7 separate regions of the Homo sapiens genome follow, and all the other regions are reported to be linked to region 3. The links are microRNA targets in miRTarBase. Many come from high-throughput screens and were not tested one by one. Region 3 holds a microRNA gene; each other region holds the end of a gene's coding sequence.

Region 1 (4,670 bases), not on the chromosome of region 3:
GAAACTGGTGGGGTGGGTATATGGGCTGTTTTTATGGCAGCTAATCACTTTATAGACTTAGAGTGAGTGGTTTTAGTGCATTACTCGAGAAGCCAATTAAATGCTCACAGTTTCTTGTAAGGACTATTGAAATTATATTTGCCTGATACACAGTGATTTTAGTAGAATTAAAAAATAAATCTTAGCCTGCAAATTGATGAAATCATTCAAAGAAATAACCTGATGAGAGAGTTCACTGTTTTTTAAGCTATCTATCTAATTTTAGGATATATATTGATACTCTTGTAATACAATTAATGATTCACATTTCACTGCTTATTGTCAATACAAGGAACTTTCACCTATTATAAATTTCAACTTGTTCATTTGGATAAGATTTTTAAAGTTAATGCAGCTTATATTATATTGGAATCAAAGTTAGTCCAGTATGGTGAAATAATCTTATATTAGGACCTTAAGACCTCACAAAGTCTTGTATGTTCTGTGTGTTTTGGCTGCAGCCCTACCACTTATGTCTTGGATGAAGATGAACCTCGATTCCTTGAAGAAGTTGATTACAGTGCAGAAAGTAATGATGAGTTAGATATTGAGTTGGCTGAAAATGTAGGAGATTATGAACCTTCTGCTCAAGAAGAAGTACTTTCTGACTCTGAATTATCAAGAACATACCTACCTTGAGCCCGCTGCCATCTCTTGTTAACTGCAAAGAATAAATGAAATATCTTGGTTTTTATTTCCCAGGAAGCTTGAGAGAAATGAGTTTATACAGAGCTGACTCAAAAAGACAAAAAGTAACTTGGGCCAGTTTGGTTTCAAGATAATAAATGTGTTATTAATTAATGATAAAATTGGCGCTTGTTTTATTTTCGATATTCAATGCACTTTATGTAGCATTGAATGATCAAATATTGGATTTACCTTTAAAAAAAAAACCTGAGTATCATTGCATGAATTTTTATCTCCCTATGGTTATATCCTGCATCAAGTGGATAATTTTGAAGTGTGTTCAGAATATAAAATTGAAATTTTAGAGTTGTTGAAAATCCTGACTTGTTGAAAACTAATATATATGTACATGGATTTCTATAGATGTGTTTGTTTAGAAGTGGGTAGATATTGCAGATAAGACTGTTCTTCAGAATCATGTTAACTATTGGGTTGTGACTGAAGTAGTCCAGGGTTTGCCTTGAAACCATTACATTCTACATTTACCAAATTAAACAAATAAAAACTGTATTAAATGTTGCATTCATTTTGTCATCTTCTTTAACCAGCTCAGATTATTTGATGTATAGAACTTTGTGAGAATGTGATAAAAACCCAGAATTGGACACAGTGATAAAAAGTTGTTTTTAAGAAAGTTGGCTGGGCATGGTGGCTCATGCCTGTAATCCCAGCACTTTGGGAGGCTGAGGTGGGTGGGTCACTTGAGGTCAGGAGTTTGAGCCTGGTCAACATGGTGAAACCCTGTCTCTACTAAAAATACAAAAATTAACCAGGCATGGTGGTGGGTTTCTGTAATCCCAACTACTCAGGAGTCTGAGGCAGGAGAATCACTTGAACCCAGGAGGCGGAGGTTGCAGTGAGCTGAGATAGTGCCATTGCACTCCAGCCTGGGTGACAGAACGAGACTCTGTCTCAATTTAAAAAAAAAAAAAAAGCCGAATATACTACTGTTAGATTTTGTTATGATAGAGGTATACCCACACCTATCATAAGAGATATATCTGAACAGCCCATTTCTCTAATACTGTGCCTCACGGATACACCTAAAGTATATCACTGCAGTTGAACAGTTTGTTAAGAAGCTTGAAAAATGCAGTGAGGAGATGATCTGATGTTAAGTGTGCATTTGTCTATTGAGCTTATTCAGCATCTCGAGCTGTGCTGTGTTATTAGACTTACTGAAGTGAATGGACTTAGGGCATGCTGACGCTGGTATCAGAGTCCTAGATGACTGCAGTACATTTAAACCCTTTTTTTGTTTGTTTGTTTGTATGTTTGTTTTTGTTTTGAGACGGAGTCTCACTCTGTCACCCAGGCTGGAGTGCAGTGGCGCAATCTCGGCTCACTGCAACCTCTGCCTCCCGGGTTCAAGCGATTCTCCTCCCTCAGCCTCCCAAGTAGCTGGGATTACGGGCACCCGTCACCACGCCCAGCTTATTTTTGTATTTTTAGTAGAGACAGGGTTTCACCACGTTGGCCAGGATGGTCTCGATCTCTTGACCTCGTGATCCACCCGCCTTGGCCTCCCAAAGTGCTGGGATTACAGGCGTGCGCCACCGTGCCTGGCTAAATCCTTTCTTGTAATGAAACCTACCTGGGTTTTAGCCCTCTTGCTGCAAGAATGACTTTATTTTTAAATAAAATAAAGCAAATCCATTGACTTTGGATAAGTGTTTTAAGAACTAAGTTTCTGATATAATAAAACAACCTCCAAAAGATACCTCATTGCAGATTTTCGCCAGGATTCAGGTGCTTAGGTTTTGGCACATATCTTCCTCACTTTTTCCTATAGTGTTTTTAACCTGTTATAATTGGAATGATAGAGATGTATTTCAGAATTTTGCATGGTCCAAATCAATGATTTTTCTTTTTAATATGTAAAGTATTTCATTAACAGTGTAGATTCTTTCTGATGTTTGGGGAGCCATGTTTAAAAATGTAGTATGGAGCAATTGAAAAAGGGGTCTTTTTCCCTAGCCTAATTCTTACTAATCTCAGAAAACAAAGATCAAATAGACTGTGAAGTTGAACTAGTCCTCTTAGTGTAGTAACCAAATTTAGGAAAGATCAGGATAATTTAGGAAGGAAAGTAATCATTTATTTAATTATTTATAATTATAAACAATTATTTTATGTTTTGTATATTTTATGTATAAAACAATTACATGTTTTATTATAGTTATACTTCTTCAGAGAGTAGATTATGGAGCCACCATGTCCATACAGTTAGTTGTTCCTTGGTATTCTTGGATTGATTCCAGGACCCCCCACAGTTACCCAAATCCACAGATGCTGAAGTCTCTGATATAAAATGGAGTAGTATTTGCATTTAACCTATGGACATCCTCCTGTATGCTTTAAATCATCTCTAGATTACTTATAATACCTAATACAATATAAATATAAATGCTCTGTAAATAGTTTTATTGTATAGTGTGTGTGTGTGTTTTAAGAGACGAGGACTCACAATGGGACACTTTGACCAGGCTGGTCTCGAACTCCTGGGCCTACACAATCCTCCCACCTCAGCGTCGCAAGTAGCTAGGACTACAGGTACTCACCACTATGCCTGGCAGTTTTTTAAATTTGCGTTTTTAAAAATTGTTTATTATTTATTGAATATTTTCTACCTGAGATTGACTTAATCTGTGGATATGGAACCTATAGATATGGAGGGCTGGCTGTATATGAATTTGTTTTTGGCTTTTACAAAATTAGAAATTAAAAGTAACTACAGTTACTATAATGTGCAGAATGACTCAAATATTTCCATTTATTATGTTAGTGTAAAAACTCCTAACTACGTATTATAATATTTTATATTAATGAAGTACTTTAGCATACATTATGAGCCTGAATAAAGCTTTTTATTAAATATTCACAAGATTGAAGGAGAAATTCTTTATAGTTAGGAAATGATTTTTTCATAAACAATAAATAGCTTTGAAAATATAAAAAAAAATTTAGGGCTGGGTGCAGAGGCTCATGCCTGTAATCCCAGCACTCTGAGAGGCCGAGGCGGGTGGATCACTTGAGGTGAGGAGTTCAAGATCAGCATGGCCAACATGGTGAAACTCCACCTCCACGAAAAATACAAAAATTAGCCAGGCATGGTGGCATGCGCCTGTAATCCTAGCTACTTGGGTGGCTGAGGCATGAGACTCACTTGAACCTGGGAGGCAGAGGTTGCAGCAGTGAGCCGAGATCAAGCCGCTGCACTCCAGCTGGGGCGACAAAGCAAGACTGTCTCAAAAAATAAAAACAAAAAAATTAAAATAAAATCCTAACTTTCCTAGTTAGAAATATAATTAACTTTTATTGGCTATTAGTAGCTAAAATTGCCCTTATTTTTGCTTCTGTGGCCTCATTTTTTTTCTCGGTTATTCAGTATTTAAATTATGGCTTAGATGTCTTCAATGCTATAGTCCTAAAAATTAATGATCTACGTTGTGCAGCAGTGATGGGATCTGATAAACTGAGTCTGATGATGGAGTTTAGATTTATTTCCTTTACCTTGCATTTGGAACTTTGAATCTCTTAAATGTGGTTTTGGTCTAGTCCACTGGTTCTCACGTTGTAATGTGCATCAGAATCTTCTGAAGACACAGATTGCTGATTATGTAGACCTGGGGTGGAGGTCCAAGAATGTGCATTCCTTGCAAATTCCCAGGTGGTGATGCTGCAGAGCCACACTTTGAGAATCACTAGTATAATCCAGTATGCTCTTCCAGCATCACACCTTCCTTCCTGAGAATCACAGGAGTTGTGAACTGCAGATTAGCATTGGGGAGAATTTAGATCAAACTAATTTGTAGAATCAAGGAGGTCAAGTAAGGTCACAGGGGCACTTGGGTTGAGCCAGGGTTTTAGCCCAGGTCTTCTGACAACTGCCTCATGTCCTTACCACAAAGGAGCTGCTATCCTTTGCCTTTCCCCAAAGAGTG
Region 2 (4,550 bases), not on the chromosome of region 3:
CTTAACTCCTTGGGTTTTATATCATTGTAATGAATGTGTTTATTATGCCAATATAAGTTGCTTCACATGCAACTTAAATTCCATGAACCTCATTCTGTAAGGGTTACATAGATTAGTAATTAACTGATTAGTTTTTTAGACAGTTGAAATTTTCTTGGGTTATCCTTACGGCATTTCTAAAATAATTCACCATGACTCCCTTTGTTTTATTATGTTTAAAGATAAAGTCGCAAATGGAGACATTTATTTTCATAATGCTAAAGGTAATGTTTGTTCTTTGATATTTTAAATTATTCCCTAAGTTTTATGAAGGAAAATGATTTAAAGGAATTAAATTATTAATATTATAAAATTAATATTTTTCACAATGTATATCATTACTTTATGTTTATTCACTTTCTCTGGAATTGAATTCCACATTTGAATGGAATTAAAATAAGACTATCGGTCTTATGGTTTTCTGGTTTACAGTGCCAAATGTTGATAGAGGCTGGGCATGATGGCCCATGCCTGTAGTCCCACCACTTTGGGAGGCTCATGCAGGTGGATCACCTGAGGTCGGGAGTTCCAGACTAGCCTGGCCAACATGGTGAAACCCCATCTCTAATAAAAATACAAAAATTAGCTGGGCGTGGTGGTGTGCGTCTGTAATTCCAGCTACTAGGGAGGCTGAGGCATGAGAATTGCTGGAACCCAGGAGGTGGAGGTTGCAGTAAGCTGAGATTGCACCATTGCATTCCAGCCTAGGTGATGGAGTGAGACTCTGTCTCAAAACTAAAAAAAAAAAAAACTGTTGGCCGGGTGTGGTGGCTTATGCCTGTAATCCCAGCACTTTGGGAGGCCGAGGTGGGCAGATCACCTGAGGTCAGGAGCTTGAGACCAGTCTGACCAACATGGAGAAACCCCCTCTCTACTAAAAACATAAAATTAGCCAGGCATGGTGGCACATGCCTATAATCCCAGCTACTCGGGAGGCTGAGGCAGGAGAATCACTTGAACCCAGGAGGCAGAGGTTGCGGTGAGCCGAGATTGAGCCATGGCACTCTAGCCTGGGCAACAAGAGCAAAACTCCGACTCAAAAAACAAACAAACAAAATGTTGATAGAACCGTGTGCTAAGGTTTGCTTTTCTTTTGCAGAGAATAACAAGATTGGACATGTACATTGTCATGTGACTGGATCACATGGGGAAGCGCTTTATACAGACATCAGTTCCATGGTGTTAATTTGAAATGCCTTAATGGCAGGCAAAAACCAGTCATTTCATTTTTGTAAATTACAGATTTTATCACAGAGTAACAAATGTTGCTGTAATTAAACTTCTGTTTTATATATATATACGTATACATATCTGTATATATACATATATATATATATAAATATAAATATATTCTTTACTTTTTGTATCAGTAACCAGGCTCGCACACACAGGGTCTGCTGCCACGTCGCAAACCACTCAGTAAAGGAAATTAAAAATGTATTTGTCATGTTAAAAAGTGTTAGCCACAAAAGGCTACTTACTTTCTTTTCCTTTTCCTTTAAAATTGTAAATAAATAATGTTATGTATCAGTGTGCCTGAACCTTGCATATCCTTCACATATTTCCCATAAGCCCCTCAGAAAGGCTAACTGTGATGATGACACTTTGGTACAATTTAGATGTCTATTTGGTGGCTCCTGTTAAAGACGCACCAGTGTAAAATGTTCCTGTAGTCACTGTTTGTACTTGTGTATTGTGGAAAAAGTACTTTTGGAAGGCATGGGGTTGCCAGTACCACAAAAACTGTGTTGTATATAATGTAAAGATTAAAATGGGGAAATAATGAGCATCTGTGAATAATGAGGTGTCATTTTTTGATAATCTTGAATGGCAAATAACCCAATAGCCTGCGTACCAGAGACATCTGTGATTGTTCTATTACTTGAATAGTTCTACAGTCTTTTTTTTTTTTTAATGTTTACAATTATCCAGTTTTAGAAGAGAGAGACTTTAACGCCATTGCCTGGTTACTTGTTTTATGCTGTAATCTAGTTTATTTTATGTAAAATGTATATTGAATGCTTTCCTTTTTTATACCTGCCTTAAATAATTTGGCAATCAGAATTAAAAAGTTTTTTTTTTTTTAAATAATGGCTTCTTGTCTGTCTCATGTTATTTTCTACCTGGCTGATAGTCATTCTAATTTTCAAAGAAGGGTTTCTTAATATTATTAATATCCAATGCATAAGATACAGTAAACAGATATTAACTTTTCTTATAGGATACATAGGTATAACAACCAAATAGTGTGTTTAATTCGGTGAATGTATTCCCATTTACAGGGTATTTACCCTAAACATGGAGCACGATATCACTAGAAATTAGTAGATACAGGTTTCTATGGTATGGAATGATACTTCAAAGATGCAAATGTTATGACATGTGGATAACAGGAAAAATATGTAAAAAGTCATTTAGTCAGTTAGCTGTCATTACATTGATTTACTAGAATATTTTATGCCAAATTTTAACTGCCTCTTCTCTCCCTTCTTTGCTTGGAACAAACACTTACTGAGTGCCTGCTTTATCCCAAGCACTGCACTGGGTTCTGGCATATTGCAGTAAACAAAGCAGACACAAATTCCTGTCTTCATGGAGCTTTCATTTTTTGGTGGGTGGGATAAACATATCATAAAATATCTGAATAATATATAGAGCATGTTAGATGGTTGATAAATGCAATGAAGAGAAATGAAGCATGGGAGTGGGGCATAGTGAATATGTGCTGGAGTTTGTAACTGTAAACAGAGTGGCCACTAAAGAGATGGGGGGGATCCATGCAGACATCTGGGGGAACACCACTGCAGTGACATGGAAGAGCAAGTACCGAAGCCCCAAGGTGGGAGTGTGCTTTGTATGTTTGGACTGGTTGATTTCAGTGCTCCATTCCAGCTGTAAGTTTTTATTATTTTACTATAATTGCTAATGACAGTGCTACCACGTGGTTTACTAAAAAGTTCTTTAAGCTGACGGAATTTGTCTTGGTATAATTTGGTTAGTTCTACCTAGAGGCCTTTGCATCAGAAATGAATAGAATTTTGCAATCAAAAAGAAATGTTTCCCTTGATTTTGAAAGACCACCTTAGAGTATTGCCTTTGCTGCTTGGCTTACACATCTAGTCTATGTTCTTAATAGATTTCAGTAAGAAGATATTTTTCTGTTAGTTTTCAGTTTTTCTTTTGAATTTCATCCAAGCTGTTATTTATAAAAATATCGTTTGTGGTGTTTAATCCTATACATAAGAGTATTTCACATATTTTTCATCATTTTTAAGCTATCAACGCTTTTTCGTTTTTATACGACATCTTGATTATCCTTGAAGACTTGAGGTAATTTGTCTTATACCAGTTAAGCAAGTATGTTTTCTCTGTTCAGACTATAGTTGGCAGGGTATCTGTTGGTTGCCTACATGCTGATCCAGTTCTTAACCAACCCCTTAACTGTCAAAGCACAGAAGCAGAACTAAGGTCAACTTACATCTTCACTAGCTGAATTTTCATGTTCTTGTTGGTAGCTGGGTGATACTGTGGATTCCTGATGATTTTCTTGCTCTTAATAATATATATGGAAGCCAATCTTACCTTTCAGCTGCAAAATGACTAGATGTATGTTTATTACATAGCAGGCTTTTTAAAATCACTTCTAATTAGGTGGTTAAGTAAACAGGTTATAAATAGCTGCATTGGACCATGTTTAACTCTGCTCCTGTAATAAACAGGAATGCTGATAAATACAAAGAGATATATGACCAAAAGCACATTGCAATTTGAATAGGCTCTTCCCCTAGGCTTTTACTGGAACATTATTCGTGACTGGTTTACATTAATCACTAAATGAAGTTTTGTTTCTTCCTCTTACTGTTACAGTGTTGTCTTTGCTGATGACAACATGAATTGCCAAAGGCCAGGGCTTATTTATATTACGTGTGCCATTTCTCTGGCTGAGTATATAGTCAGTACCGAGTGGTAAATTAAAGATTCCCAAAAGACAAGTGTACTTGGCTCCATTATATTACTATGATGAATCTGCCATTAATACATTCTAATTGTTTTACTTTTATAGACATAAAATCAGTCCCCTTAGTGACTAATAATAGGGTTTATTGATTTTACTAAACATTACTCATTCCAGGCCTGCTCATATCAGCTTGTCCTGAACATATGCAAAAAGCCTGCAGTGCTGACACAGTGCAAATTAACTTCATGGAGAAATGGGAGTGAAGAGTTGTTTACAGCTGTGGTCCCCTTGAATACAGAATATTAAAAACCAGGTAATAGGCTCCATACAGAACCATTTATTCCTAGATTACAATCTCAGATGACTTTTTCATGGAAACTTGCCATTGCTGTTCAGCCCAGGTCATTAACACTTGCAGAGTAAAACGTGTGGCCTTATACATTCACACTGGCTGTGACCCTGATTTAGTGTGGTTTCAGCCCAAGGGTCTGTGAGTAACCAGAATGAATAGCTCTGATTGATGCAGGATAAAAACAGCAGTTTAAATGATAAT
Region 3 (4,670 bases):
TGTTTTCTGAAATTTGGTGACTTATTTTTTTCTTTTTTTCAGGGTTGATGTTTTCTTATTTTTAAAAACATATTTATTTAAATTGACATATTAAATTTTATATATTTATCATGTACAACATAACACTTTGAAGTATGTATACATTGTGGAATGGTTAAATTGAGCTAATAAACATATGCATTACCTTACACAGCTATTTTGTGTGTGTAGTGAGAATACTTAAAATCTACTCTCAGCAATCTTCAAGAATACAATTCATTGTCACCATATTGTGCAACAGGTCTCTTGAACTTATTCCTCTCATTTAACTAAATTTATTTTTTCTTTGCTTAGAAACTTGTTTACCCACCACTTGGACTAATTGTTCAAATCTTCCCTGATGGGGACACAGCCATCTGCATGCAGACTGCCTCCCACCAAGTCCAAGAGCCCCTTCTCTCGCAAAAGGGCTCTCTCTCCACTCACTCTAACACATCAGAGCTGTTCTGTCCCTTCTCTGTTTTTTAAAATTCTTAGCTATCTTGAAGTCACCTTTTTTCCCTTCTCCTCTCCCTGTAATAATTCTAGTTCCATCTAAGGACTATATCAAGTAGTAGTTTCTGGCTTGTTTCCCCAGTGGAATGGTGAATTATTCAGAATTATTATTATTCAGAATTATTTACATGTAAAACAGCATAATGATGTATTTCTAATCTCTACTGTGCCAACACAGTAGAGAGTAAACAGCAAGCTATAAAAAATTGGAAGACAAAGATAACTAAATATATTTTATTTTGGTAATAATGCACTAAAATGTGTAACTTTTTGTTGTTTCCCATTTGAAAACAGTTTACATCAGTACTGGAATGTAATTTGGTAAGCATTAAAAACTCAGTTTATAAGTAATTCTTTAATATTAAACAGTGTTTTTTAGTATCAATTCTACCATAGTATAAAATTATATATTATATGTTTCATATTAGTGTGTATCTGTAGGTATACACATTATACCACACACACATAAATACACTGCAATAAGGAATACTGGATGGAAATTGTGATTATAATAATGCCAGAAATGTTAACCCAACTCTTGCTAAATGCTGTTACATATTAAAGAAGAGAAATGAGAGAAAGAAGGAGAGAAAGAGGAAAGGAAGGAGAGAGGGAGGGAGGCAGGGAGAAAGGAAAGAGGATATCCAAAAAGTTAACTAAGTTTATCCCTAGGTCTCCAAAATCAACATTAAGTGCCTAGTCACATAGTGCCTCATGCGTGTCCGTGTGAAAAGACCACCAAACAGGCTTTGTGTGAGCAACAAGGCTGTTTATTTCACCTGGGTGCAGGCAGGCTGAGTCTGAAAAGAGAGTCAGCAAAGGGTGGTGGGATTATCGTTGGTTCTTATAAGTTTTGGGATAGGCGGTGGAGTTAAGAGCAATGTTTTGGGGGCGGGGGTGGATCTCACAAAGTGCATCCTCAAGGATAAGGAGAATTACAAAGAAACTTTGTAAGGGTGGGGGAGATTAGGGTGGGGCAGAAACCAACCACAATGGTGGAATGTCATCAGTTAAGGCTATTTTCACTTCTGTGGATCTTCAGTTGCTTCAGGCCATCTGGATATATACGTGCGGGTCACTGGGGATATGATGGCTTAGCTTGGGCTCAGAGGCCTGACACATAGAAGTTTAGTTTGATACCTATAAAATCTGTGTTCTCTTTAACCTTTTGAAACACTTGCTAATGAATCACAAAGATAAAAGTCTTTCAAATGTATACACTGAAAACCTATGTAACACTGACAAAATGAAAGTTCTTTAGTCTCTCCCCACCTTTAAATCGAAGAAGTCACTGAGTGAGGATTTAGACTTAAAAGCAATTGTGACTTGCCTATGACTTGCTTGTTATGATGTCACCTTTACCCAAGATTTACTTTGGAACCTATGATTCATTCTGGCATTTTTACATGTCTTTTAATTGTCAAAGTTCAGACTTGGGTTTTTGGTATCTCTAAACTTATCATCGCTAAGAGTCCTTTGTAATAGTCTTTCAAAATTAATGAATCAAATGCTGGTGAGCACATGAATTTCTGAAGCATATATTTTTTTAAAGCCAGGCTTTAAAAGTCAAGGGTGATAAGAAAGAGGATCAAGTAAGTGCTACAGCCAATAATCCAACTCACTCTTCAGTGCTTCTGAATTTAAAATTAGAAGTGTTTCACTACACCTGAATTACTTGAATTACTTTGGCTCAGATAAGTAATTCTAATAGATCAACCCTAGAGATAAACACCTAACTTTAAAATTAGACTCACTGAAATGTCTGCTCTCCTCAAAATATCATTTTACAGGTTGAAGATGTTGTCCTATGAAAATCTAAGATGAGAAACACATTATGTATGATACATTACATGCAACATATAAACTTGACTCACTTCTCAACATTTCACATTTTTGTGTATTTATACAGTTAAAATACAATTCAATGGACTCCTCATTATACTTGTATAACTCTAAAGGGAAATAGTAGAAATAACAGTTATTGTAGTGTTATGCTACTGAAAAAAACTAGTTAGCTTAGGTCAAAGGATAGAAAAATGGAATGGTAAGCAATTACTGAATCATTAAAAGAAAGGAAGAGCTAGATTCCATGAAGCAAGAGATCAAAGGAATAAAACTCAAGCAGAGGTAAATTCATTGCTAGCTCTATTCCCCTTAATGCAATAAAACAAATGAAGAATCAGTTAAGTAGAGAGTACTTTCCATTATATCCAACATACTAATCATTTCTACCCTTCAATGGCTTGTCAAATTTCCATAAGTAAAAAGCATTATTAATATAGAAGTACAGTACATGACCATATTTTTCCTTAGGGATCATGCAATTTCAGAAATTATTAGAGATGGGAGTTAACATTCCTACCTACTCCAGCAAATACCCTTGGGTAGAATGCAAAAGTAAAAAGTGATGTAAATAAACATGGAAGAGCAAATCAGATAAACATGGGGTAAAATGGATATGTAGAGATACTCTACTATAATTTATCAAATCTGTTGTTAATCTATTGAAAAATCTGGGTATGTCATCTTCAAATTGACTACAAAACATGATTGTATTTTCCAAATGGTTAGAAGTAGACACTATTGAAAGGTGACAACGTGTTAGCAGCCCTGGCTCGCTCTTGGCGCTTCCTACGCCTTAACATCCACTCTGGCTGCGCTCCAGGAGCCCTTCAGCCCGCCGCTGCACCATGTGGGCCCCTCTCTGGGGCTGGCCAAGGCCAGAGCCGGCTCCCTCTGTTCCTGGGGAGGTGTGGAGGGAAAGGTGCAGGCGGGAGCCAGGGCTGCATGTGGTGCTCGCGGGCCAACACAGGTTCCCGGTGGGTGCAGGCTCCACGAGCCCCACTCTCAGTGCGTCCTGCCGGTGCCTGCTGGGCTAGATCAGGGAATGAGCTTGCTCTGGGCTGCCAGAGTGCCCGGGCTAGGTGCAGAAAAGTCCTGCAGTGAGTGACAGTGAGAGGTGAAGCCAGCTGGGCTTCTGGAACAGGTAGGGACTTGGAGAACTTTTGTGTCTAGCTAAAAAATTGTAAATGCACCTATCAGCGCTCTGTGTCTAGCTAATGGAGTGGGGACTTGGAGAACTTTTGTGTCTAGGTAAAGGATTGTAAATGCACCAATCAGCACACTCTATCTAGCTAAAGGTTTGTAAACGCACCAATCAGCACTCTGTGTCTAGCTAATCAGGTGGGGGCATGGAGAACTTTTGTGACTAGCTAAAGGACTGAAAACGCACCAATGAGCACTCTGTGTTTAGCTAAAGGTTTGTAAATGCACCAATCAGCTCTCTGTAAAATGGAACAATCAGCAGGATGCGGGTGGGGCCAGATAAGGGTGAATACGGGGAGTAAGAGCCAGCCCCTCCCCCCCCCTCCCCGGCTATTAAGACCCACATCGCAAAGGGGTGAGGCACCCCCCACCATACGGGGAGTAAAAGCCAGCCCCTCTCCCATCCTGGTTATTACGACCCACGGTGGACTCACAGCCTGTTTACGATATTGGGAGTAATATCATCTCCCCCTCTGGAAATTATGAACTATTTCACAGACGAGTGTACACCCTCCGTGTACAGAGGGTGTACACCCGTCTGTATTGGGAGTAATATCATCCTCTTCCTCCCTGAATATTCAGAACAGTATCACAGGAGTGTTTCTACTCCCTGCGATATTGGGTGTCATATCCTCCTCTCCCACGTGGAAATTAGAAACAATATCAGTGGGGGCGTGTACACCGTCTGTGATATTTAAAGTAATATCATCCTCTTCCCTCCAGGATCATGGGAACAATATCCCTGGGGTGTGTACACTTTCTGCGATATATGTAGTAATATCACCCCCTCCGCCTTGGAATATTATTAAGGACCATCTCACACGGGGATGTACACTTCCTGCGATATTGGGAGTAATATCAACCTCTCCGCCTCTGAATATTAGGAACAATATCGCAGGGTGGGTGTACACCTCCTGCTCTATTATGGGGAGTAATACCTATCATGGGGAGTAATATCATCCTCTCCCTTTCAGGATATTAATAACAATATCACAGGGTGGGTGGACACAGCCTGCGATACTGGAATTATTATCATCCTCTCCCCCTCAGGATACTAGGAACAATATCACAGAAGAGGTGTACACTCCCTG
Region 4 (4,596 bases), not on the chromosome of region 3:
GTAAGGTACAATGAAGTACCTTAGACTATGTAATTTATAAATAATAGAAATGTATTTCTCCCAGTTCTGGAGGCTGGGAAGTCCATGATCAAGGTGCCAGCAGGTTCAGTGTCTGTTGAGGGTTACTCTCTGCTTCAACATGGTGCCTCTTGCTGTGTCCTCACACGGTGGAACGGACAAGGCAGTTCCCCTCAACTTCCTTTATAAGGCCACTAATCTTATTCATGAGGACAGAACCCTCATGACTTACTTCCAAAAGGCCCTGCCTTTTAATGCTATCACATTTGGTATTAGTTTCCAGCATATGAACTTTGGAGGGACACAAACATTCAGACCATAGCACATATATACAAGCGAAACTTCTCATTTTCCTTCCTAAAAGTCTACATAACAACTAATATGTAAAAACTGGTAAAAGTGGAGCTGCTTCGGTTGCAGCAGGGGAGGGTCTCTGTAACCTGTGTTTGACGGATCCTAATAGATCCTCCATTCCGGTACCACTGCCCAGTCAAAAGAACTCTGCCCTGGAATCCCTGTGGCTGATCATAGTAACAGTCGCTATTCCAGCCTAGGCAGGGCTAAGCCCTTCACACACTTTAGCTCAGTCGACCCTCCCAACAGCCTTGGTCCTCATAATAGGCAAGTAGTTCACAGCAGCGTAGAAACTCAGAGCCCAGGCCTGCTACCTCGCCACACCTCTGCCCTCATTCCTGTGGCCCAGGCCCCTTGACCTGCCCCAGGTCCAGATTGGTAGAAAAAAGGATAAAGTGTCTTATCACCAAGGGGATTAGAAAATGAAAGGTTTCTACTGGCTAAGTCTTCAGAGGGCAAGGGAGCAGGAGCTTGCTGGGTCTGGGTTTCCACCGCGGTGGAAGCTCATTATATAGTGGCTTGGGGTGTGCATGCCAGCAACCCACCCCCGGCCCCCAGCAACCACACAGGCGAATGGTCGACAGTGCACAATTCAAACGGGCATTCATTAGGCAACAGACCCATGTCTGCTTAATCACAGGCAGGGAAAAGAACAAAAAAATTGGATCAGCCTATATGTGCCCTAGCAAAAGCCAATGATAGGTGTCAATACTTACAAAGTCTGCTCCTGTTATAATAATGTGCATCTTAGACACCTGGGGTTGGAAGGAAATTTTGGAGCATATAGAGGCCACCCTCTCCTGGCACAAATTATATCCATGAACAGTTATTTGCTGAACACCTCCATGTGCCAGGCACTGGGTCAGGTGTCTGCTGCTGAGCCAGGTGCTAAGGACACAGAAGGGATGTCACTGAATAATAAGCACTTTGTGAATTTAGAAGACTGGTCCAAATGGCCAGGAAGCCTCTGCTTCAGCCACATCCTCTTGTAAACCACAAACTCCAGTCTTTGCAAGATCTTTTATGAACTCCATCCAGGGCTTGGCATTCATGGTGTTAACTGGGATAAGTCTCTAAATACTTCTCACACCATCCTCCCTGCATAGAGTGCTGCTGCTGTCTCTCTTATTATCTAAATTCTTTTCGTTCCGGACTCTGCTTCAGGTGCTACCCCTTCCAGGACACCTTCTGACGGACCTAGACAGGAGTTGTCCATCTGATGGGCTTCCATCAATCCTGCGTGTGTGTACCCCACCACTTGATTCTACTCATTGCATTTGTCTGTTTCCATGTCTCTTCCCAGCACACACTGAAATAACAGAGGTGCTTAGCAAACATTTCAGGAGAGAATTGAGCTTCTCTGGGCCGTAGTTATTTCTGTTAAGTAAGGTGCACTACGGATGCGACTGTCTATCGAGCCCCAGCAACCTTGATATTTGCGGATCTCAGACTCAAGTAAGGGCTGCTGGGCAGATGTTGTTGCTGGGAGTTGGGTGGTCTCCTAGGAGGGTTCCACTCAAGTTTGCAGCACAGGGCTTTTCCTGGGGAAACCATGTGTAGGCCTGGATTACTTGTGCCCTACGTAATCCTGGTTACTCTAGAGCTATTACTACACTCTCCCTGAGAACATCTGGACTCTTAACATTGTAGAAAGAGTAAACAAGCTTTGTGGCTAACCAGACATGGGGTCCAGTCTTGGGCCTAGCACTCACAAGTTTAACCCTGGACAAGGCATGCACATTTCTGGGTTTATTTCCTAATCTGTATTAGGAACGTAAGTTAGGTCACCTACAGTTGTTGTGACGATTAATTCAGTGTGAGCTATTGCATCCAGATTGGACAGCATATGCCCCAATACGATGAAAGGGAGATTCCATGTCTTAAAAGTAGTAGCAGTGGCTCACCCTGAAAGAGCAAATGCCTGTAAGATGTGAGCTTCTGCCCGGTGTGTGGTGACCACAAAGCACAGGTGGCAAAAAAATCATCATTTTCCAGACTCCAGCATTTTAGTTAAATACGCACAATTTTATTGATTGAAGAGATTAGGACAAAAACATTAAACCAAATACAGGACAAAGCACCAGAGGCCATAGATCCCCACCATGCATGTCACCAACCTCTCCTCCTCCAAGGTACTTAAAAAATAGGGGAGAGGGGAAAAAAAAGGTCCTTCTTGACACAGCACCATCTTCAGAATGTTAAAAAAAAAAAAAACCTTCTCTCCTTTCTATCTTCCATTAGCAAAATAGAATCAAGGGCAAATCCATGGCCGCCTTGTCTCCTGGTTACGAAGGGTGAAGCCGCCCTCCTGGGAACGTGAGGACAGGGCTCCTGCTGCGCAGGCATAAAGCATCCAAGAGTCTGCACATACATGCCACACACTATTATGAAGCACAGATTCAAGTAACATTTACATACTAGAGTCCACGTGTCACCTACCCAAAAACAGGACCATTTCACAAAACATATACAGGCAGTCAAATCCGAACAAGTGAGGTACTGGGAACACAAATATTTATGCCAAAAGAGTTCTGTATCATACAGCAATAGAAAAGCCGTAATAAAAAACATTTTGCCACTCGAAATCAAATAAAGCTATCTAGAAAAGCCAAGTAAAAGGTTATTTCAGAGACAGAAATACTCAAACAAGGAAAAAGAATTATAAATGTTAACTACAGCATGTAATATGTCATCCCAAGTCAACCCGTAATTGAAGTACTGGCTTAATACATCACAATGTGACATTTTCCTTAATAAATAGAAGAGTTCTTGAAAATACAAAGGTGCGTATTGGGATAGAGAGCTGTTTTTATTTATATCATCATAGCTTTCAGCTAATTATCCTTCCCGCTTGTCTCTACTGAGGGTTTTTGTCCAAACCAGAGGGCCTTACAAGCCTTAAAAGGATCATTCTCTGTAAAGAAAACTAAATAGCTGCCCTGTATTTTATACATGTGGGACAACCTGCTTTGTTTCACTAGTTTCTAATAAAACAAAGACAAATGTTTAGTTGCGATCAGAGTACTGCAAAAGCATCAGACTCCAGGAGCTTGCTAAAATCTCAGGCCATTGCTATCATCTCAGCAAAGAGGAATGCCTGTCACACAAACCCTCATTGTTCAAAAGCAAAACATGAAAAAGGAGTTGGATTTCTCTTTTCCTTTCTTCTTCCCTTTTCTTTCCCCCTTTAAACTAAGATAGCAGTAATGCATCTGGACGTTTGACTTCTAATAGCTTCCTGCCACGAACCAATTGACACAAAACAGAATAGCTTGTTAAAGGACAGATTTTTTCCCCCTTCAGGGAGCAAAGCATTAACATGTCATTTCCTGACCAGGATATTAAATAGTTTATTTAGAAGAAATGAGTTGAAGTGAGCGATTAAGAGACACAAACTGGACTTTTGTTTTCTTTTACTGTAGCACCCAGGTTTCATGTCAGTCTGTGTGCACCGAATTTTTTTTTTAAGTGAACCTCATTAATTACCAGCTAGGTGGTTGGCTTGTTTAAAAGAAAAAAAATTCTTGGCCAACTGTTCCTTCCCTGAATCCTAACAAGAAGTTAAATGCTAACAGTGCGATGCCAGGATGTGTGTTTGAGGCAGAGAGTTTTGATTCTGTCAGGATCTGCAACTATTTTGGAACAAAATGAAAAGTGGGGTAGGCGGAAGTGGCCCAAGTGGCAAGGGGTGGTCTCCCAGGCTATGTTAGGGAAGACAAGCTCCAGCGGGCTCCCATCCATCTCACCCCAATCCCCATCCCACGCCTCTTGCCCCCATGCTACGTGGTCAGTCAGCTCCTTGAAGGTTTTCCTGCTCTGAACCAAGAAACTTAAGAGTGTGTCTTTCTTGCTACTCAGCCAGGCAATTCGTGTCCCCCGGAAGAACTCCTTTCCGCTGCCCTCGCTCACTCCTGGAACCTGCTAAGTCTCCGTGGGGCATGAGCTCAGTTAAAGAAAGGGTCCAAGTTCTCTTCCATGTTGACGTCCGGCACCAGCTGGTCAGACACTTCCTTAGCACCATATGCTGAATTCGAGACGCTAAAATCTGTAGAAAACCAAGGATGGTCCAGAATTTCCTGCGAGGTCAGCCGCTCTGAGGGCTCCCGACGCAGAATGCTTCGGATGAGGCACTTGGCCTTGGGCGACAGAGTCTCTGGAATGTTGAACTGGCCACGCCGGATCTTGCTGAAGAGGGAGCTGGGTTCAATGTCATGGAAAGGGTAC
Region 5 (4,619 bases), not on the chromosome of region 3:
AGCAGGTGCCTGTAATCCCAGCTACTCGAGAGGCTGAGGCAGGAGAGCTGCTTGAACCCGGGAGGCAGAGGTTGCAGTGAGCTGAGATCATGCCACTGCACTCCAGCCTAAGTGACAGAGCAAGACTCCATCTCAAACAAAAAAGAAAGAAATACTAGTTTCAGCATAATAATGATGGCTAAGGTTTGATTGTTTACTATCTGCCAGGTATTATGTTAAATGTTTTAGATCAATTATCTTAGGAACAATATATATTGGATTCTGATTGCATTTCTCAATTAGGAAAGTGAGTAGCACTTTATAATACCTCCTTCAAAAGCTAATTAAAAGAAGAATCATGAAACCCCAGAAATATATGCTAACTTTTTTTCTGTTTTCCTTAGGGCATCCAATTCTACACTCAGTTAAAGACCATTACTTCTCAGTGGAAAGAAGAAGATGCTACTCTTTCCTCACCTGCTGTTGTCATGCCTACCATGGGCCGTTAGAAACAAGTTTGTTTAAGACTGACTCCATCCTGAGTAATCTCCCTTTATTTTTGACCAGCTTCATTTGTCAGCTTTGCTCAGATCAGATCGATGGGATTGGAATACATTGTAACTAAAATCTTCCTCAGGACTATTAACCCCCGCAAAGTTTCTATAGGGAACTGCCTAGTGTAACAATGAAACCAGATTTCTCACTTGCTCTTCATACTTCTATTTTGAGGTAACTGTTGTAACTATGAAATGCTTATCTGAAAGTAGTGCTTAAACCTGATTTCTAAAAATTATCCCATTTTCTGATGATTTGAAGGGGAGAAAAGCCAGTGTATGTAAAGAAAATGTTCCAGCCAGGCGCGGTGGCTCACGCCTGTAATTCCATCATTTTGGGAGGCCACAGTGGGCAGATTGCTTGAGCCCAGGAGTTGAAGAACGTGGCGAAACCCCGTATCTATTATTTAAAAAAATTGAAAAAGTAAAAAAAGAAAAGGGAAAAAAAATTTTTTAAAGAAGATGTTCCAATAATTGCAAGAAGAACTCTTAGATGGGGAAACAGGACAGAAATAACTCACCGCTTTTGGTTGATCCTCAAACATAGCGCTACCTAAATGCCACTGGGAGAGACCTCCTGCAAAGTTTTCTTTAGCCCCTCTTTTATCCCACAATACACAAGATATAATCCATTTTTATATATCCCAAAGTTGTGGCAACAGCTTCTTTCTTTTCTGCTCAATGCCACTTTGTTTCCTAGTAATTCATGACCACTATTAATTCTATCATTGTCACTGCTCCTGCTTAAGATCACTTCTCAAGGATACCTCAGTAAGCAATGGATAAATCAACTTTTTGTTATATGTGCCAAGTACTAAGTTTCAGGGTTCTCTTCAGCAATCATTAATTAATACTTCAGCCATTAATTCAGATGCAAATAATTTTCTTTTTTCTTTTTTTTGAGATGGAGTTTCACTCTTGTTGCCCAGGCTGGAGTGCAATGGCGTGATCTCAGCTCACCGCAACCTCCGCCTCCCAGGTTCAAGCGATTCTCCTGCCTCAGCCCCCCTAGTAGCTGGGATTACAGGCATGCGCCACCACACCCAGCTAATTTTGTATTTTTAGTAGAGACGGGGTTTCTCCGTGTTGGTCAGGCTGGTCTCGAACTCCTGACCTCAGGTGATCCGCCTGCCTCGGCCTCCCAAAGTGCTGGGATTACAGGCATGAGCCACCACACCCAGCCAGATGCAAATAATTTTCTTAGAAAATTATTTCAAAAGTTATTTTAGGCCCAGAAATCAAGGATTGTTCCAACCATGAAAATGGGTAAGACACCTGCCTTAAGCAAATCTAACCTGCTATTACTTGCCAAATTTTATATATTCTTTTCTCTTGCCTGTATTTCTAATTAGTGATTTGTTTAATGAAGAACTCTTCATGTAGAGCAATTAACTGGGCCTAAGAAATTTCGAAGCTTTCCATGACATAAAGTGGTTAAAAAAAAATGCTTTGACAGTCTTCTTCTGCCATTAGTTCAACTGCCTTTACGCTTTTTTTTTTTTTTTTTTTTTTGAGATGGAGTTTCACTCTTGTTGCCCAGGCTAGAGTGCAATGGCGTGATCTTGGCTCACTGCAACCTCTGCCTCCCGGGTTCAAGCAATTCTCCTGCCTCAGCCTCCTGAGTAGCTGGGATTTCAGGCATACGCCACCATGCCTGGCTAATTTTGTATTTTTAGTAGAGACAGGGTTTCTCCATGTTGGTCAGGCTGGTCTCGAACTCCCGACCTCAGGTGATCTGCCTGCCTTGGCCTCCCAAAGTGCTGGGATTACAGGTGTGAGCCACCACCCCCAGCCGCCTCTATGCTTTTTGTTTCTTTGATATATCTAAACTTAAGGTCAGAACAGAAATTCATGTGCTGAACAGAATGGATTCTTTTTGCAGTACCAATCCAATTGAATCCTCTTTTTATTTTCCTGCGTCCTTACCAGTCACTTTGATAGTGCTAACTAACCTACACTATGGGGGTTATTCATGAATTAAGTATGATAAAAAAAAAAAAGACCTTGAAAATGTTGTGTACCCTGTGGATTTGAGGCTTATTACTACCACCTGGCTGGATAAAATGTCAAAACCTTCAATCACTTAAGGTGACTGGAACTTTTGTAAAATACACTTATGATCCTACTGGGCCTTTTTTTTTTTTTTTTCTGCTTTCCTAAATATGAGGCAATAGAAATTTATAATTTGAGACTACAGTACCCCTTGTTTTAGCTCTTATCACAGCTGGCAACTGGTAGTGATTTTTTTTGTTGTTGTTTTGTTTTGTTTTGAGATGGAGTCTCGCTCTGTTGCCCAGGGTGGAGTGCAGTGGCACGATCTCGGCTCACTGCAACCTCCACCTCCTGGGTTCAAGTAATTCTCCTGCCTCAGTCTCCCGAGTAGCTGGGATTACAGGTGCATGCCCCCACACCCGGATAATTTTTTGTACTTTTAGTAGAGACAGGGTTTCACCATGTTAGCCAGGATGGTCTCAATCTCCTGACCTAATGATCCGCCCACCTCGGCCTCCCAAAGTGCTGGGATTACAGGCGTGAACCACCGCACCTGGCCCTGGTAGTGATATTTAATCCAATCCAACAACTATAGGCTGGGTTAAATAAAAGGTCATTATTGTCTATATTCCAAGTGGAATTAAATGTAGTCACAGAGATTCCTAACATTTTCCTTATATTTAAGGGAAATCACTTCTAAAAAAACACACTAATCAGAACTGTGATGCTCTAATTAGAAACAACTCATCTGGCCAACTATTTGCTGCTCAGAGTTTCTTATTTCTTAGATGAAAAAAACTCATCAGTTATATTCATGTGATCGCGGCTAAAAAGTCAGTATTTTCTTTTTGTTCTAATGTGGCTTCATTTGAAATTTCTCAGATTCTACATTGTACTAATTATGAATAACAAATTATAAATTAAAAACTCTTAAAGAGAAAAACTTGGCTTAAAAAAATCATTTCATATCTCCTTATAAGCCTTTGTCCTCTAGGTTGTAATGACTCTGACTTCCCACCTGTGATGGAAAGCTAAGAGTCACAAGGTCACTATGTTTACTCTTACGTAAAAGATAGTACACATTTTGGCTAGGCTGTTTACTTCAAAAGGCAACCTATAGGTTTCTACACAAAAAGAGGCACACATTTGCATTTGCATTAGTATAATATGCATTTGTACGGATATTGCTTTAAAAATTTATGTAATCTACTAATGCTATTTATTACTCATTCCACTGATCCCTGAAGTCTCTCAACTAGTAGAGAAAATAACCGTGATTTAGCAAGAAGCGACATGGGGAAGGGTGACAACAATATACATTGTTTGATTAGATACAGACTCCTTACTGTGTCAGACTCCTGAGGTTCTTTTGGAATAGTGGGTAGCACCACTTCACCAGAAGAGTCTGATATTGCAATTTGCTGGGTGATGAAGATTTTATCTTGAAGCTTACTTTCATCCCTGCAATAATGACAAAATAACAGAACCGTCAACAACTCTACACACATGAAACCTGGTTTAGAATAACAGACTTGTCATATTACTTTCAATTAGCACATTCAAGATGCCCACAAGAACCATCGTGTTGGGCTCATGTTTATTACTTAAGCAAGAGAGCTCTTACCCAAATTCCTTTGTTTCCCCACTGTCAGAAACAACATAGTCTGGAACTGGAGGCCTAGAACTCTGGTTGTATTTCCTGTAGTGGGTAAAAGTCAACAAAGATAATGAATGAGGCAGTGTCTCCTCATGCCTTCATATTTTCTTTTTGTATTTTAATTTTTTTTTATTTTTTATTTTTGTGGGTGATAGTAGGTATACGTATTTGTGGGGTACGTGAGATGTTTTGATACAGGCATGCAATGTGAAATAATCACATCATAGAGAATGAAGTATCCATCCCTTCAAGTATTTATCCCTTGTGTTACAATCCAATTACACTCTTTTAGTTATTTTAAAATGTATAACTGGCCAGGGGCAGTGGCTCATGCCTGTAATCCCAGCACTTTGGGAAGCCGAGGTGAGTGGATCATCTGAGGTCAGGAGTTTGTGACCAGCCTGGCCAACATGGTGAAACCCTGTCTTTACTAAAAA
Region 6 (4,670 bases), not on the chromosome of region 3:
ACTTGGAGTCCTGCTTACTCTGTATCCTTGGAAAATCCAGATTGTGAAAGAAAAGAAAAAGATCATTTTCATCCATCTTTTGACAGCTTTCTACTTTGACACTTCTTTCCTCTACAGTTCCAACAGAAAGCCCAAGGCTGACTTTGATTTGCCTGACTTGGGTATGTTCCCATCCCTGCCTCAATCATTAACTTACTGGCCTGAGTCTTAGTGATGGGGTCAGCCTCTCCTCAATCCTATGAGCTTGGAACAGGAAAGGAAAATTGGAGAAGAGGAAAGGGATTCTGGACAGTCAAAAATAATTAAATATCCACTCTCTTCCCAAAGCTGTGTAATGGGAGAGCACTGTCCTTCAGCCAATAATGCACTAGCAGCTAGATTCCTTAGCTAGACCTTCTTCCACTGTTGAAGCCTAATCCCTCTGTTTTGCTGCAGATACCTGTTTCCGAAGTTTACACTGTGCTGGACTGAGTTTGTAGACATGAAGGTCCATGTACCCTGTGAAACCCTCGAATACATTGAAGCCAACTATGGTAAGACCTGGAAGATTCCTGTAAAGACGTGGGACTGGAAGCGCTCTCCTCCCAATGTGCAACCCAATGGAATCTGGCCTATTTCTGAGTGGGATGAGGTTATCCAGTTATATTGAGATAGTAGGTTGAAATGGGAGAATTTCTCTTTTGGAAAAAAAGGTAGATAACTGTTTAAAAAATACATGTCTATTTGTCAAACATAAGTGGGAACCAAAGAAAAAATGTGACAAGTTTGAAGACACAGAAAGAGTCATCTGATGTAATTCTCTCACTTAGTACTGAGGAATTTTCATGTGCCACATACAATGCTAGGTTACAGTGGAGAAGCCTAGATGAATGAGACAAATACCTACTTCTTTTATTCCTCCTTTTGGTAAACAACTCAATTTTCCTTTGAGGGAACCCTCCCCCACCCTTTGAAGAGTTCAAGTTCTGTACAGGTTTTTAAAACGTGAAGTAATGTTTGAACTGGAAGATGAGCTCACCAGGCAAAGCTAAGGAAGGATATACTAGTTGAAAAGAATAACCCACTCCTCTTCTGGGCATTTAAGCTGGTATGTTAGTGCTACTTTTAAGATTGTGGAGTCTGAGTTAATATTCAAGTGATCAGACTTTGAGTGACATCAAGAAAAGATGATATCAGGTTCATTTTTCAACTAATCTTATGTGGAATTGAATTAGAGAACAAGGCATTATTCTTTTAGGGAAGGTGAGAGCTTATTTGTATCAGAGCTTATTACTTGTCAGGATAAGTAAATTTCTGTACATGTACTGTTTTCATATGTGAAGTGAGAAGAAACTTTATGCTTGTTTAATGCTTAAATTTCCATCCATTGTGAGAATATTTTCACTGACCTCTGATGGCACTTGTTGACAAATCATTCAAGTGAGACCATGTTACTAGACATGATCTTGAAAGAGGCCATGATTTCACAAAACTCATTTTTATTTTATTCTCAGACAGTCTGTTAGGTAAAAATATGAGAAATTCATGTACATTTTATATTTTCTGAATTTATAATCTGTGCACTCCCAATTTTAATGACACTAAAATATTAATAGAATTTTTTAAATATACTCTAATTTTTAAAACATACTCTTTATTATCTTCATTTATCAATTACAGCTTCGTATCTCTAATTTATGGTCTATATACCAATTTAAATGGCATGTAAACCTGCCTGTTTCTTCTCCTCTTCTAATATATCAGATCTCCAAAATGGAAGCTAAATGGTGGACTTGACAACTATTCACCCTACCTCAGATCATAGAGTTTGTAAAGTTTGTGTCCCTCCCCAGTTTTTCAGTCTGTTGAATGTCGATGGGGCAAGAACTCAGACTTCTACTTTACCAAGTACCACACACTCTGGAATGCTTTAGTTTCCTTTTCCCCTCAAGATGTCTGAGTCAGCTAGGATGCTGTTTACCCCATCTCTCTCTTATATCACTTGAATGATATATTGTAAGTGAGAGGTAAAGGAAAATGTAGGCACAATAAGCACTGCTATTTTTCTCTTTGTCTAGGAAAGGAAGCTGAATCTTATATCTTATCTATGCTATTTAGGACTACTTTCTGGAGCTTGGCAGATTTTCCTCTGACACCAGAGAACAATAGTAGTCTCAAGAATGGAAACCTGAATGTCTGAGGGAATGGGCTGGTAGACTTTTTCGAAAACAAATTAGAGAAAGTAACTTACAACCACCCATTCCGGATTTGTAAAGCAACATGAAAACCTTTGATAAATGATAACCAACAGTCTTCTGTCCTAATTTGCATTCTCAATGCAGAATTATTGGGTCTTTCATAAATAACATGAGTGGTTTCTGGAGACATTTAAGATTGTCAGCAAACTTGTCCCAAAATGGCACATCATCATAATCCATTTTCTCTTTGCTAGAAAATCAGCCCATAGAGTGCATTCCCAAATTCTAAATAGCTGACCCTAAATTCATTTTTCATGCTTAAAAATAATAGAACAAATAATAATACTATTTTTGGGCAAAATCCACCCTACTTGATGAGGACCATTTGCTTGTGCTCAGTATTTAGAAATGCATACACTCCACATTTCTCCCCATTTCCAATTGGGACTCCCATTCTTTGCCAGGAGATCTTACCCATCCCTTTTCAGATTAATCTTTTATCCTTTCCTGAAGTACAAAGTCTTAAGAGTGTCTGAAATCCAAGACATCTTGGCCCAATTGACACAGGTTCTATATTCTTCCCTACATAGACCACTGGCTGCTGAAATACTTTTCTTGTCTTCTGGTTTCACAGGCTTCAGCTCATGGGTTCCACCCTAACTTGGGGAAACAAAAGCCTTCTCTAGAATCTGAAGGCCAGGCTTACCTCTGATTCTGATTCATCCATACTTCATCTTATGTATTTTAACAGTTGGGTTCTGTGGAGTGTCCAGAGACCTTGGGTTAGGTATATCCATCTTCAGTACCTCATTGGATCACTTTTCTTTCATCACTTGAGTATTCTAGCAGTCATTCTCCTAATCTGACCACTTTCAGGTTTAGTTTACCTGGCTTACCTGGGGAAGTTGACAACTTGTTGGTAGTTAGGCACCCATGAATGTCTCCAGAGACATCCTGAGAGGCAAGATTCCTCTTAATTGATAACCAGGACAACCAGGTAGTCACCCAGTCCTCTCTAAGCAGGGAGCACTTGTCCTTCTCTCCTCTGCTGCAGCTACTGATATCTGGCCCCTGGAATAAAACCATAGTTCCTAAAATTGAGCATCCCTAAGAGTAGCTGCTTGGTGGGACAGCTGATTTCTTTGATTCCCTAGCTGCAAAACCTGAAATTGACCACTAGGTGACAGAATGTTTGCCAGTATCCCCACAAAACAAGTTAAAACTTAAGTGAAAATCATTCTGCTTTTGAATCTTAAAAGCTAGAAAAACCATAATGTAATATTCTTTTTAAACCCTCTTATTTTATAACTAAATAAATAATCACAGAAAAGAATGATCTGAACAAGAACAGCTGAGGCTAAAACCCAAGACTGCCGTGACTCCTAGTCCAATGTCTGTTTCGCATCACAACACAGTATCTTTAACAGTGCTTGAGATGCTTAACAGAGAAGGCATCCAGTGCTTCATTGAGGCTAAGTCTCAGGGTGTTTCTGCCGCTTAGTATCTTTTTGTTCAGATTGAGAACCTAAGGCGACAGAGAGGTCAAGGGGAAGTATTTTCTAGTTCAGAATTCAGAATTCTTAGGCAACCTTCATACCTTTATCTGGAAAATGCCTTCTCTCCAGACAATAAGACAGTTCACATCTGGAGACATCAGCCTTTGGTACCTAATTCTCTAAGCTCAAGATGCATCCCATTGCCACTTTACCATTCTATTTCCCAAGGGAACCATCAGCACCAACCTGCTAAATGCCTGTATTTGAAGTCTCTCCCCTTCCTGAAGTGACCTTTTATGAGGCTCTTTCCTTCCTAAGGGACCTTTCCCTGGTAGTAGTGGTCTCATTCACAAAAAAGAATAATAGATGTAACTGGAGTCACTTTGCAGTTTTCAAGATTTTTTTTTTATCTGCTTGGCTGGAAAGGAGACTAGAGTATCTAGTTTTTAGTATTTAAACTACTTTTAATTATTTATATTGATACTCTCTGATAAATGCAGGTAGTTAAGAATAGATTGTACTCATTCCTTTTTGAGTTTGTGACCTCAAACCATTGTTTTTATTCTTACACGACTACAGTACTTCAAATGGCACATAGATAGGCAGGATATTACATAGGTAAGCAGGAATTTATACATTGGGTACCAGAGCTAAATCTGGAAAACACATTTGGAATGAGCTTCCACACTTCAGTCTAAAATCTCACCCAAACTTATGGCTACATATTTTTCTAAGTTTCCCCCCTAGTTTCACTTTCTGGAAAGTGAACAGTTTTTTAAATCCTAAATGTTATAAATCCTTAGGAGAAATATTCCCTCAAAACCTAGTCAAGAAAGTGCCACATTCCCACCTTCTAACAGGTAATTATTAGTTGTAATAGCTTTAATGCATGGAAAAACTTCAGTTACTGACCAGTCAAGAGAATTTCTCAAGAAAAATCCCAGCAACGTTCCCTCTTTCCTCCTTGTCTTCCACTATCATTAAGACCTGGGCTAGA
Region 7 (4,670 bases), not on the chromosome of region 3:
AAAAAATGGTAGCACTAGCTATAAAATCACTTAAAACTAGACTCAAATACAAGTCCTACCACTTACTAGTTGCATAACCCTAAGCAAGTAACTTGGCCTCAATTTCGTTATATAAACTAGGGAAAATTACACAGTACCCATAGATTATAAATTCTACATGGCTTTTAGTTGCATGTATGAGAATTGTCTTCTAGCTGGAAACATGTCATGGAAATCATTTATTTTAAGGAGTTTACAAAAATTCTCAAGATCTACATGCTATATTACCTGGTTAACCCTGGAACCAAAGAATCACAAGCAGAATCAAGAGACAAAATTTAATATATGCACACAGTTTTATATATAATGCAGCATCACACCATGTAGGGCATTTACTCTTATTTTATACATTCAGATATGTTTGAAACACTTCTTAAGGCTACAAAACAGAACATAGAAAAATAAACAGGAATATATTCAACACTTACAAAAAGTGATATGATAAAGAATATAAAGTACTAGTTTCCTTTTAACACTTCAAAAGATATGTATATATACTTTTTTTTACAAGTAACATCACAAATGATCACATCTTCACATGCTCTTAAAGTATTATTTGTACTCAGTGTAAGGCTATTATCGTTTTTCATACATAAAATTTTCTAGCTCTGTAACACAATGCAATTTTTAATCCATTCAAGTAAGTTCAACCCCAAAGTTGCCGCTTCCCAGCATTAAGACATGCACCCACCCCTCTTCTAAGATTTTCTAAAACTTGTATTTCGGGGAGAAAGACCTCTTTTAAAAAATAATCCCAATTAGTGGGAGAGTAAATGGCTGACATTAGTAGCAAAACCTTAGTTATCTGAAAATAACATATTGGAAATGAGACATTATTAGGATTTTAAACAAACAATAGCATTTAGACATAAAGTAGGAAGCAAAATACAGTAAACAGAAATAGTGTAGCCAAATATGCATTCTCTTCAGCTACACTAGAGTGGACCTTGCTTAGTACCCTTAAGTAAAAGACAAAACATTTACCTCATCTAAAAATGAAGGTAAAACGAAAGAGGCAAAAATAAATATTGCTAGTTTCTAGGATGGCTGAATGTTTTCTAAACCAGAAATGGTTAGAAAGGAACTTTATTGCACCAAGTCAATCATAAGCAAGTTTGCAGTTCACAGGCATTTTAATTCAACCTTGAGTCACAAAGGAAACAACACGCTGCAAGAATACAGTCTGCATTAAATAAGATATATCAGCATTGTGGTCTGGGAAAACCTATGCTTGCCAGGACAAGGCAGGGTCTGAGCTTAGGTCTGCCATGAAAATGAATTTGTGGGTTATCAGTAAACAGTATGAGGACTACACAGATGCCAGCATCCTGCTGCCAAGGAGACATGGGGCAAGAGTTGAAGATTTGAGAGGAAATGAAGAGACATACACAACACCAAAGGGAAAAGGGGGCTGGAATCAAGTTCAGCCAAAGCACCTAACACAAAAAACAGGTGAGCTTTGGTCAGTCTGTTCTTCAAAATATGTATGATCATAATATGGTGAAGTTTCATAATTTCCAACTCAAAAATACAAATGATCCTCAGTTCTATACTTTTGCCTCTATTCTCTTATAAAGAAATATGTCAACATAACAGTATGACATAACAGTTAAAATGAAGGACAAAAGCTTGCTTATCCTTAGTTTGACCTCAGCATAAGGCAAAATCCCCTGGACTAATACATTTAAAAACAAACTTAAAGGAAAAAAAGCGAAACCAACCTTCATGCAAAGATTAATTTTAAAACTATCAAAAGTCAGTTCTTTTATTCCAGAGGTCACTGAGAAAAGTACCATCTGCTAAAATTCTCTTTCAAGCACTTCTTCCATCATATCCTAGAGGTGAGATATGGGAAACAGAAAGCAAATCAGTGTTTCCTTCAGGAGCTATATTCTGTTACTCAATTGAGGTAAGACAAAGTGACAATGAAGATATGAGTAGTATTTCCTTCCAATTTTTAAACATTTTCAGAAGCTGAGATCAAACCCCAGTCAATAAAATGCAGGACACTAGAAGCAACAACTTATTTTGGACTCCTGAGATCAAACACATTGAACTTTCAAATCTGGTGTTTGTATCAAAATGTGATTTTCATTAAAATCAGGTAAGCTAGTCCTACATAAAAAAGCATGAGCTGAAAGTGGAGGACCCTCTATCTTCTCATTCCTTAACTGAGCCACCGATGTTAAGAAAAAAATGGCTTAAGCGGTACCTTCAACAACTATTCTAGTTAAGAAGGTGACAACAAATTCCTTTCAATAGGTTCTCTCAAGAAAAGTTTTCCACACAACCATCCCAGTCTTTACAATTTTTTACCTAGCACCATCATAATAAAATGTTATCTTTCAAAGTGCTCTCTAAAATCCTGTTACATTATCTAAATGCTAATCACTACTCAAATCAGCAGTTACACAGACGTTAGGTAATTAAAACAGCACAGAGGTAAATAACCATTATTACAGTACAGTGGCGATTCACTAGCCCAACTGGCATCCAAACATTCCCATAGGTTATCAGAGAACCCAGAAAACCCATCTGTTTCAGTTTGTCAAATTCAAGTGAATTGTATTTTCTTAAGTAATTTGCTTTACAAAAAAAGAAAGTCACCGCATCTGGTTTTGGCTAGGTATATTACACATGGCATGCAAAGAGAAATTACTACTATGTTATTTGCATAGCACTCAAACTTCCTGATCAGAAGATAATCTCAACATAATAAAAGAGTGGATTTTCACATTGGTATGCACAAATAAAGAATATAAGCTACAGTTATTTTTACAAAATAACACAGATGAATGAATACTGTGTTAATTCAGAGTTCAATCTCCAAATGAGAACAGAGTGCAACATGCAAAGGGAACCTCTAGTGAATACTGCAAAGACTGGAAGAAAACAGAATGTAAGATGTTACCTACCTAAGGGTAACAAGCTATAAAATACAAAGCAAAACCATTTTCTAGCAGCATCCTCTAGAAAAGAACTAGAAGTCACAATCATATTATCTTCTATACAATAGTTCCAGCCCTGACAAGTAGAACATGCAAGTGTAAAGTGAAAGTGATACACAACCAATGGTGCGGGGGGGGGGGGGAGGAAGAAAACAACTCTAGAAACCTGTCAAGCTAAAAATTTTTAACATTTCTTCTCACAAAATATTTAGAATCTGTCAGTGCATTAGTGTTAAAGTGGCATTAAAAAAACTTCTGCAGTTCTAACTGATGCAGATTATTTTCAAAATGCATAGCATCTACATTTCTTTCGAGTAGGCACCATGATATTTACACCAGTGCTAAGAATTCTTGGTGGAAACAGCCATTTCATTGGATTTCCTACTATTCTTCTATGCAATCTCAACAAATACCAAAATTCAAAAATATACCTTATGAATATTAAAAGAACTATATACAACATTGCTAAGACACAGTTAATAGGCTGCCTTATGTGAATATTAAAGAGAAGACATTATTCAAGTTTGACAGATATTGAGATGAAAGGCCTTTGGGTTGGAAGCATTTTAAAAGACAACAGTGTTTTAGGCTGAGAATTGTTTGAGCCCAGTTTATGACTAAGGCATTGCATAATAAAATATACATTTCTATTTGGTGCAACGTTATGTTTGGAATCTATAGTGTGTCAAATGGTATATTTTCTTGTCACTTTAGTAAACACTATAAAGCACACATTTCCAACATCTGAAATCAAACTTATAAACTTATAAGGAAAAAAGCCAAACACTAAATCTATAATGTTTTATATTAAGCTGTTTATAAAAAATACTTTAACAAACTTATCTTCTACTTTTTACGGGGACAGTCACTTGATCAACAAACAGATTCTGAATGAAGAAAACTGGCAATGCCAGGAATTAACCTGCCCCCTTGAACTCATGTCCAAAATGTCTTGTCCAGTATGGGAGTGAAGGTAAGGGGGGCTGGGGAGAGGAAAGAGTTCCAACTGCGGTTTTTACTTTATTGTATTTTTTTTAAAGCCTTCAGAAACATTCCACCTAAGAGTTTCTGTTAGAAAATACTTCGGCAACAACCATCAAGTGTGCTGTCCCCTATGGCCATCTCCCATCCCTGATCTCCTCCTATCTCCCCTAAATGGTCGCCCTCTGACATTTCGATGGTACTGATAACCTTCATCCCGACTTCTGCTTGGCTGTCCTTTCCAGGACTCCTCACTTCTCACATGTTGATATCCACCCCTACCAGAATAGCCCCAATCACTTTTGTACTTCCTGCTTCCATAAGTTTGATTATAGAACTGCTTGGATCTACCACTTCTCAAAATATTAGACACTTCATTTTCATCTTCTGAACTCTCTTCTTTTGGTCTTTGCACTCTGCTATCAACAGAGTTGGCCCCAGGGCTGACCACATCAGCAGCAGTCTTAGGATCTTTTACTTTTTCTGTTTTTTCTTTCAGGCTTTGAATGGTCCTTTTAGGTTCAAGTTCAACAGGCACAGTTTCTCTCTCTCTGTTTAGAATCTGAGTGGGAGGATGAGCCTTTCCCTCTGCTACAGGAGGGATGGAAGCCAATGCCGTATCTGCCTTTCGTGTCTGGGAAGATTGCTCTGTCCGGCCTTCGTCCGGCTTACTGCTCACACTTGCTTCAGGGAGAGAATGTA

Evidence for each region. Region 3 holds the annotated microRNA hsa-miR-1297 (UUCAAGUAAUUCAGGUG, at 2,198-2,214, opposite strand). A microRNA usually pairs through its seed, bases 2 to 8, with sites in the 3' UTR of a target mRNA and lowers its output. Matches are read on the target gene's strand: a 7mer-m8 pairs with bases 2 to 8, a 7mer-A1 pairs with bases 2 to 7 and ends in A, and an 8mer does both.
Region 1: the mRNA of AGTPBP1 is a reported target of hsa-miR-1297. The part of its 3' UTR that is shown has no 7-base or 8-base seed match.
Region 2: the mRNA of ZNF608 is a reported target of hsa-miR-1297. Seed matches in the 3' UTR shown: 8mer at 1,919-1,926.
Region 4: miRTarBase lists TRIB2 as a target of hsa-miR-1297. Seed matches in the 3' UTR shown: 8mer at 2,771-2,778.
Region 5: miRTarBase lists ALDH6A1 as a target of hsa-miR-1297. The part of its 3' UTR that is shown has no 7-base or 8-base seed match.
Region 6: the mRNA of FKTN is a reported target of hsa-miR-1297. Seed matches in the 3' UTR shown: 7mer-A1 at 1,980-1,986 and 7mer-m8 at 2,546-2,552.
Region 7: miRTarBase lists OTUD4 as a target of hsa-miR-1297. Seed matches in the 3' UTR shown: 7mer-A1 at 3,505-3,511, 7mer-A1 at 2,593-2,599 and 8mer at 675-682.

What each region holds. Positions count from the first base shown.
Region 1 is chr9:85,543,117-85,547,786 of GRCh38, reverse strand. It overlaps AGTPBP1 (ATP/GTP binding carboxypeptidase 1), which reads left to right. Exons shown (of 26, transcript NM_001330701.2): 26 at 501-1,248. The coding sequence ends at 678. Among named protein-coding and RNA genes, the nearest start is that of AGTPBP1, 200 kb to the left of the region's middle.
Region 2 is chr5:124,634,495-124,639,044 of GRCh38, reverse strand. It overlaps ZNF608 (zinc finger protein 608), which reads left to right. Exons shown (of 10, transcript NM_020747.3): 10 at 1,139-2,130. The coding sequence ends at 1,145. Among named protein-coding and RNA genes, the nearest start is that of ZNF608, 110 kb to the left of the region's middle.
Region 3 is chr13:54,309,784-54,314,453 of GRCh38, forward strand. MIR1297 (microRNA 1297) reads right to left here and starts at 2,265; the gene lies at 2,189-2,265.
Region 4 is chr2:12,740,515-12,745,110 of GRCh38, reverse strand. TRIB2 (tribbles pseudokinase 2) reads right to left here. Exons shown (of 3, transcript NM_021643.4): 3 at 2,377-4,596. The coding sequence ends at 4,317. Among named protein-coding and RNA genes, the nearest start is that of MIR3125, 5.4 kb to the right of the region's middle.
Region 5 is chr14:74,056,511-74,061,129 of GRCh38, reverse strand. It overlaps ALDH6A1 (aldehyde dehydrogenase 6 family member A1), which reads left to right. Exons shown (of 12, transcript NM_005589.4): 12 at 384-4,283. The coding sequence ends at 488. It overlaps BBOF1 (basal body orientation factor 1), which reads right to left. Exons shown (of 12, transcript NM_025057.3): 10 at 4,150-4,224; 11 at 3,872-3,986. Among named protein-coding and RNA genes, the nearest start is that of ALDH6A1, 26 kb to the left of the region's middle.
Region 6 is chr9:105,634,616-105,639,285 of GRCh38, forward strand. FKTN (fukutin) reads left to right here. Exons shown (of 11, transcript NM_001079802.2): 11 at 436-4,670. The coding sequence ends at 649. Among named protein-coding and RNA genes, the nearest start is that of TAL2, 26 kb to the right of the region's middle.
Region 7 is chr4:145,133,347-145,138,016 of GRCh38, forward strand. OTUD4 (OTU deubiquitinase 4) reads right to left here. Exons shown (of 21, transcript NM_001366057.1): 21 at 304-4,670. The coding sequence ends at 4,084. Among named protein-coding and RNA genes, the nearest start is that of ABCE1, 37 kb to the left of the region's middle.